Homo sapiens: one gene and its partner. The protein of the gene in region 1 purifies or fractionates together with the protein of each later gene. This does not show direct contact. Each region holds a gene or a part of one and is shown on either strand. Other genes may lie near its edges. The genes, in order: ADPRH and BCAT1.

What was found.
Region 2: the proteins of ADPRH (region 1) and BCAT1 purify together in Homo sapiens (affinity purification with mass spectrometry; one large-scale study listed by BioGRID and IntAct). This does not show direct contact.

What each region holds. Positions count from the first base shown.
Region 1 is NC_000003.12:119,582,390-119,586,216, forward strand, and holds part of ADPRH (ADP-ribosylarginine hydrolase), read left to right. Parts: coding exon 1-78; intron 79-3,827.
Region 2 is NC_000012.12:24,939,054-24,942,880, reverse strand, and holds part of BCAT1 (branched-chain-amino-acid aminotransferase, cytosolic), read left to right. Parts: intron 1-3,827.

The DNA of each region.
Region 1 (3,827 bases):
CTAAGTTGACTCAACTGTATTACCTCCTTGCTAAGCATTACCAAGACTGCATGGAAGACATGGATGGGCGGGCACCAGGTGAGCACAGCCGGTGGGAGGTGCAAGGAGGGCAAAGAATAAAACAGCCTTGAGGAAATCATTAAGAATGTTGATGGAGATTTAAATAACAGAGACAATAGTGTTTGTAAATGTGATAAAAATAGAAATAACGGCCATGGTGGTGGCTCATACCTGTAATTCCAGCTCTTTGGGAGGCCAAGGTGAGAGAATCACTTGAACCCAGGAGTTCAAGACAAGCCTGAGCAATATACGGAGACCCTGTCTCTAGAATGGGGTAGCCAATCCCTCTTCTAGAGACAGGTACTGATCCGTGGCTTGTTAGGAACTGGAGCACACAGCAGGAAGTGAGTGATGGGCGAAGGAGCATCATCACCTGAGCTCTGCCTCCATCAGATCAGTGGCGCATTAGATTCTCATAGGAGCCTGAACCCTGTTGGGAACTGCACATGCGAGGGATCTAGATTGTGGGCTTCTTATGAGAATCTAATGTCTGATGATCTGTGGTGGAACAGTTTTGTCCCAAAACCTCCCCCAACCAACCCCGTCCATGGAAAAATTATCTTCTGTAAAACCGGTCGCTGGTGCCAAAAAGGCTGGGGACTACAACTCCAGAAAAAAATTTTTAAAACATTAGCCAGGTGTCATGGCACATACCTGTAGTCCCAGCTACTTGGGGGGCTGAGGTAGGATGATTGCTTGAGCCCGGGAGGTTGAGGCTACAGTGAGCTAGGATCGTGCCACTGCATTCCAGCCTGAGTGACAAAGCAATACCCTGACTCTAAAAAATAAAGAAATAAATAGAAAGAACCTAAATCTCTCATAATTAATTAAGCTGACACATTTGCAACCATTTAAAATTATTCAGGGTGACTCTACTCAATAACAATGTATCGTATATTTCAAAATAACCAATAGAGTAAATTTCAAATGTCTCACCACAAAAAAAAGTGAGGCAATAGATATGCTAATTAGCCTGATCATCCCACATTGTTTACATATATCAAATCATCACATTATACTAAATAAATGTATATAATTGATTTGTCAATTTAAATATTAATAAAAATTTAAAATTTGCAAATAATATTTACTAATATTGAAAAGTATTATTATACACTAATAGGTTATAAAATAGTATGTATGTTATGAACCTACTGTCCTTTAAAAAATAGATCTGTGGGGCCAAGTGCTGTGGCTTACACCTGTAATCCCAACACTGTGAAAGGCCAAGGTGAGAGGATTGCTTGAGTCCAGGAGTTTGAGACCAGCCTGGGCAACATAGCAAAAGCCTGTCTTTAAAAAAAATTTTTTTGAGTGGCCAGTTAAAAAAAAATTTTTTTTTTTTTGAGATGGAGTCTCACTCTGTTGCCCAGGCTGGAGTGCAGTGGCACGATCTCGGCTCACTGCAACCTCTGCCTCCCAGGTTCAAGCGATTCTCCTGCCCCAGCCTCCCAAGTAGCTGGGATTACAGGCACGCACCACCACGTCTGGCTAATTTTTGTATTTTTGGTAGAGATGGGGTTTCACCATGTTGGCCAGGCTGGTTTCGAACTCCTGACCTCAGTTGATCCACCTGCCTCAGCCTCCCAAAGTGCTGGGATTACAGGCATGAGCCACCATGCCTGGCCAAAAAAAAACTTTTTTTTAAAAAATAGATATGTATTTCTGTGTTGAGAAAGATCTTGAAGAACATGTACAAAGATGTTACTAATTATATTTGGGTGATGGGAGTATTTATAGTTTTTTATTTTTACTTACTTGTATTTCTAAGTTTTCTGTGATGAATAAGTAAAAAGAAAAATGTATATTTTTTATTTTTAAAGAAAAATGCGGCTAGGCATGGTGGCTCATGCCTGTAATCCAAGCACTTTGGGAGGCCAAGGCGGGCAGATCATCTGAGGTCAGGAGTTTGAGACTAGCCTGACCAACATGGTGAAATCCCATCTCTACTAAAAATTAAAAAATTAGCTGGGTGTGATGGTGCACACCTGTAATCCCAGCTACCCAGGAGGCTGAGGCACGAGAATCACTTGAACCCCAGAGGCGGAGGTTGCAGTGAGCCAAGATCGCGCCATTGGACTCCAGCCTGGGCGACAGAGTGAGACCCCATCTCAAGAAAAAAAAATGCAAAGGCTTTTGTAGAGACTTCTGGCCACAGGTTCGCTCACAAGTGGTTCTTGCCCACTTCGGCAACTTGTTAGAGCCACTTGGGCCACCAGGTGATTTTCTCTGGCCCATCTGACCTACCTCTCCTATTTGAGGCTGCTAGGGCTGCCATAACAAAATGGCATAGACTGAGTGGCTGAAACAATGGAAATTTGTCTCTCACAGCTCTGGAAACTGGAAATCCAAGTCAAGATATTGACAGGCCTGGTTTCTTCTGAGGCCTCTCTCCTTGGCTTGCAGATGGCTGCCTCCTCGCTGTGTCCTCACATGGTCTTTCCTCTGTGTGCATGTATCCCTGGTGTTTCTGTGTGTTTGCATTCCTCTTCATGTAAGGACACCAGGCAGATTAGATTAGGGCCTACCCTAAAGGCCACATTTTAGCTTAACCACCTCTTTAAAGGCCCTATCTCCAAATCGAGGTACTTAGAGCTACAGCATTTGAATTGGGGGGACTCAATTCAGCACATAACACCTCCTGATGAAAGCTTCCCATCACCATACCAAGGGGCCCTTGTCACCCCAAGGATTGGCTTTAGATGCCAATCTCTGTTCATCCTTTCTCGGCATCTGATAGCTCATCAGTTTAGCAAGTGGAAACTTTTTTTTGTCCACCTGTGCCATCCATGAACATTTTTGTGAAAACACTGACCAGTAAAGGAACAGCAGTGCCACACTCCATCGTATGTTGCTGCCATCGCTTGGTTCGCATGCGTATTCACAGGTCCCCAGTAGGACAGGTCGGGGGACAAGCCTGCTTACGTCACTGTCACGAGGGGATAGCCAAGGCCCAGAGGTTCAGTGACTCACCAAAGACACATTGTTTCCCTGAATCCACTGCTCCTCATCTGAGCCCAGGGCTTCACTGTAGAATTTTTGGCCGCTTTCTTTCTTTTTGATGTTCAGGAACTCCAATTGTGAGGTTTTTGTTTTTTGTTTTTTGGTTTTTTGTTTTGAGACGGAGTCTCGCTCTGTCACCCAGGCCAGGGTGCAGTGGTGCAATCTCGACTCACTGCAACCTCTGCCTCCCGGGTTCAAACGATTCTCCTGCCTCAGCCTTCCAAATAGCTGGGACTACAGGCATGTGTCACCACGCCCGGCTAGTTTTTTGTATTTTTAGTAGAGACGGAGTTTCACCGTGTTAGCCAGGATGGTCCCGATCTCCTGACCTCGTGATCTGCCTGCCTCCACCTCCCAAAGTGCTGGGATTACAGGCATGAGCCACTGCTCCCGGCCTAATTGTAAGGTTCTTATTGGACTCCATAAGGAATTGGGCTTTGGAGTCTGATGGATTTTACCCAGCCACTAACTAGCTGATTATGTGATTTTGAGGAAGTTTCTTAAGCTCTGAGCTTAAAAGGCTTATTTACTTAAAAAAGAGAACAATATACTTACTTCTTAATTTTTTTGTGATGTCTCAGTAATGACTGGTAAAGATTCCAAGGATCCCTATATGAGTCTGCTGCCTTTATTAGCGTTATCTTGCCAAGGGTTATACATAAAGAAAGGCACATTGTTGGGTGGGGTTTGGAGTTTTGGGGCATGCATCATCATATTTTTTGGCTCTCCCTTTCCATCAAAAATACTTGGAGACAGAGTTTAGT
Region 2 (3,827 bases), on another chromosome or scaffold:
TCTGTTTCATCCCATCAAGATCTAAGGTGTATAGTTACAGAATAGAACTCGGTTCATACCATATGCACCCTAATTTCTTCGATCTTCAACTAGTTTGGAAGTGTGTGTGGGTGTTTTCTTAGCCAAGGTTAATATGCAATTTCTTAGTGGAGTGTAGGAGTTTGGGGTGCCTAGCCTTCCTACTTCCCACTTAGATAACTTCCCCTACCTGTTGTACCTGTCAAAGGAGAAGGCCAGTATGGCCATGTTCTTTGCAGGTGACTCCACCTTAGCCACAGCTGATTGTAACAAGGGTGTATATTTGGCCCAAGTCCAGCCATCTTTTTTTTTTTTTTTTGAGGCGGAGTCTTGTTCTGTCACCCACGCTGGAGTGCAGTGGTGTGATTTTGGCTCACTGCAACCTCTGCCTCCCGGGTTCAAGCAATTCTCCTGCCTCAGCCTCCTGAGTAGCTGGGATTACAGACACCCACGACCACGCTTGGCTTTGTATTTTTGTATTTTTAGTAGAGACGGGGTTTCTCCATGTTGGCCAGGCTGGTCTAGAACTCTTGACCTCAAGTGATCCGCCCGCCTTGGCCTCCCAAACTACTGGGATTACATGCCCAGCCAGCCATCTTTTACTTCTTTCTTATTCTCTTATTCCACATATTCAAGCAGGTACCACGTCCTGTGGACTCTGTCTTCTCTGAATCTATAGGTTCTCTCTTTCCCATTGCCCTGCATACTGGTTTATGCTCTCATTACTTCTCGCTTGAATTATTCCAAAAGTCTCCCAACTGGTCTGAAGCTTAATTTTCATTATGTGCTGTTCGATGTCATTCCACCACGCAAAATCTATGGCTTCTCCATTGTCTCCTGAGTTTAGTTTAGTGCATGAGACCGTTTAAAATCTACCTACACCTCTTCTATGTGCATGCATTTCTCTAGTCATAAGAGAGGATTTGATCTATCTCAAAATGTGTTCTTATATTTGCATTTACTGGTTTTTAACTCCCTCCATCCTATCTATAATTTGCACCATGTTGCTCACCATGCAGCCCACTCCCCAGACACCTTGTGAGAACAGTGATCATGTTTTTGCAGTGGAATGAACATGGGCGAAAGGTGGGAAGGTATGCATAGATTTACATTTTGAAGTCAGGAAATAAGATACTGATCAATGCTTTAATTCGACTGTGCTTTTTACCTTTTCCTCTGTTGTAGCATGAACCTTGCCCCAAAAAGATATTGATCATATGCTGCAACTCCTCTGCACTTACCTTTTCTTCTACCATGGCAGGAACCTTGCACCATTGTTGGTGCTTTACAGATATTGGTTGAGTTAAATCGAGAGCCTATTTCTGGACTTTCAAGATTCAGATTAATTGATTCTGTTTTATACTTCTCTGTTTTTGAATGGCACATACATCTTTCCACACTTGGATTTCTTTGAAGTTAAAGCTTTAATTGACTTCCAAAAGACAGAGGATTATAAAAACACAGAGAACAGTAAAGTATTTACACGGTCTTAATGCCTATTGCCAAACACATATAGCTGCTATTAATGCCTATTGCCAGACTCATATAGCTGCAAACTCATGTAGCTTAATGCCCATTGCCAAACTCATATAGCTGCTATATATGTCTACTGGAAAACTCACATAGCTGGTTGATTTTAAATTGATTGTAGGAAAATTCATACAAAAAGATGCTACATAGGAATATAAACTGAACACCACAAAAATCGTAATGAACAAACTCAGTAATGCCAGCCTGTTCAATCACTAGTTTTCAGATTAAGGCAGTATGCAAAGGGAAACATCCTTGGAATGGTCTTAGAATATAGAACAAAGTCATGTGTTTGGGAATCTTAACCAATTCCAATACTGTTCAACATGTTTTTCTTTGTTGCAAACAATGCAGTTTTTAAGCAAACTAATGAATGCATACCCTGACAAACAAATCCAACAAAAGAGGTACTTAGAGCAGTGTTCATTGAATCCTAGAATTTTGAAAGAAAAAATCTATTAGGTCATTTTGGGCTTTTACTTCTGCTGAAGAAGGATTGTTCTTTTGAGTTTATTTTTCTAGCTTTCAGTTCTATTCCATTTAAATGCCTCGAGAAATAGGACTTCTCAAATTCCCTGTGGAGAGTTCTGGCACCTACTATATTCACTTTTGAAAGTCTCCTGATAACTGATTTCCTTTTTCTTTTGGTTATACACATCAACTATTCATGGTTGGCTCTGCTGATAGTTTTCCATGATTCTTTATGCTTATTTAAAAGAAATCATATAACATTAATCATATAACATATAACCATTACTTGGTTATAAAGCATGATATTAACTAAACTGGCTTTTAAAAATTCAATAACATTAGAGCAAATATTTTATTAATATTGTCAGTAGTTCCATGAATATATAGATGTAGGATGTCAATAAAGTTTATGCCCCTTAATAACTGAGTGTGTTAATGTTGTATTTGCTGGTTAACTGGCACCTTCCCTCCTTTTGATCAATGTTCTTAGAACAGTATGTACAGGAGTACTTTAGTCTACCACTTGATATTCAAGGACAACACTTCGAAGCTTGAAATGAGGGATTGTTTTAACCATATTAACGTAACTGCATAGTTTGCAATAGATTTAATGATTCAACATCATTGTTAATATTTAGTTTAATTAAAAGTGCCTTATATTAACTTGTACACATGTGAAATGACTTATCAACAAGATTATTTATTGCAGCATTGTTTGTGATTACAAAGAGTGGAAGTCATTTGCATAGTCATTAGGCGTAAAAAATAATGACATTAAAAGAAAACAATTGAGGAAAGAACCAGTAAGCTCTCAGGTAGAGATAAAAAGAAAGTTACCGTGAGCCTTTTCACTGTATATATTTATATATTTGATTTTTGACACGTGAGTTTATTATAATCAAGATTGAATGAAAAAAATTGAAGCCTTTTAATGAAATTAGCTTGACACCAGAGTCATTATCAAGAAAATCTGAAATACTGGTACCTATGCACATTTGATTTTATTATTTTTAGTTTTATTATTTTTTGAGACAGAGTCTTGCTCTGTCGCCCAGACTGGAGTGAAGTGGTGTGATCTCAGCTCACTGCAATCTCCAGCCTCCCAGGTTCAAGCGATTCTCCTCAGCCTCCCGAGTAGCTGGGATTACAGATGCCTGCCACCATGCTTGGCTAGTTTTTGTATTTTTAGTAGTGACGGAGTTTTGCCATGCTGGCCAGGCTGATCTCAAACTCCTGACCTCAGGTGGTCCACCTGCCTCAGCCTCCCAAAGTGTTGGGATTACAGGCGTGAGCCACTGCACCCGGCCATTTAAGCAAATTTTAGTTAAGACCAGTAACATATTTTTGACAGTATTTCCGAAGTGTTGTATTTAATTTAACTAATTGAAAATTATCTATTAAGAAAGCAAGTTAAATGTAATGTGTATACTTCATAGTATACACATTATAATGATTCATAGTAACCATTATATGAAGAGTGTCTAAACTTTTCTTCAAATCTACCATTTATATAGTACAATAATGACCAGCAAACAATGGCTAAGTTTTACTTAATTAGACATTTGTGTAGCTCCTACCAAGGCTACCAGACTTTGTACCCAGTAACAGGAAAACAGAAATAATTCAAGCATTATTCTCACTCTTGAGAAACAATTCTATTTAGGGAGATATACATAAAAAGCAAAGGTGGCTGGGTGCAGTGGCTCATGCCTGTAATCCCAGCACTTTGGGAGGCCAAGGCAGGCAGATCACTTGAGGCCAGGAGTTCGAGACTAGCCTGACCAACATGGTGAAACCCTGTTTCTACT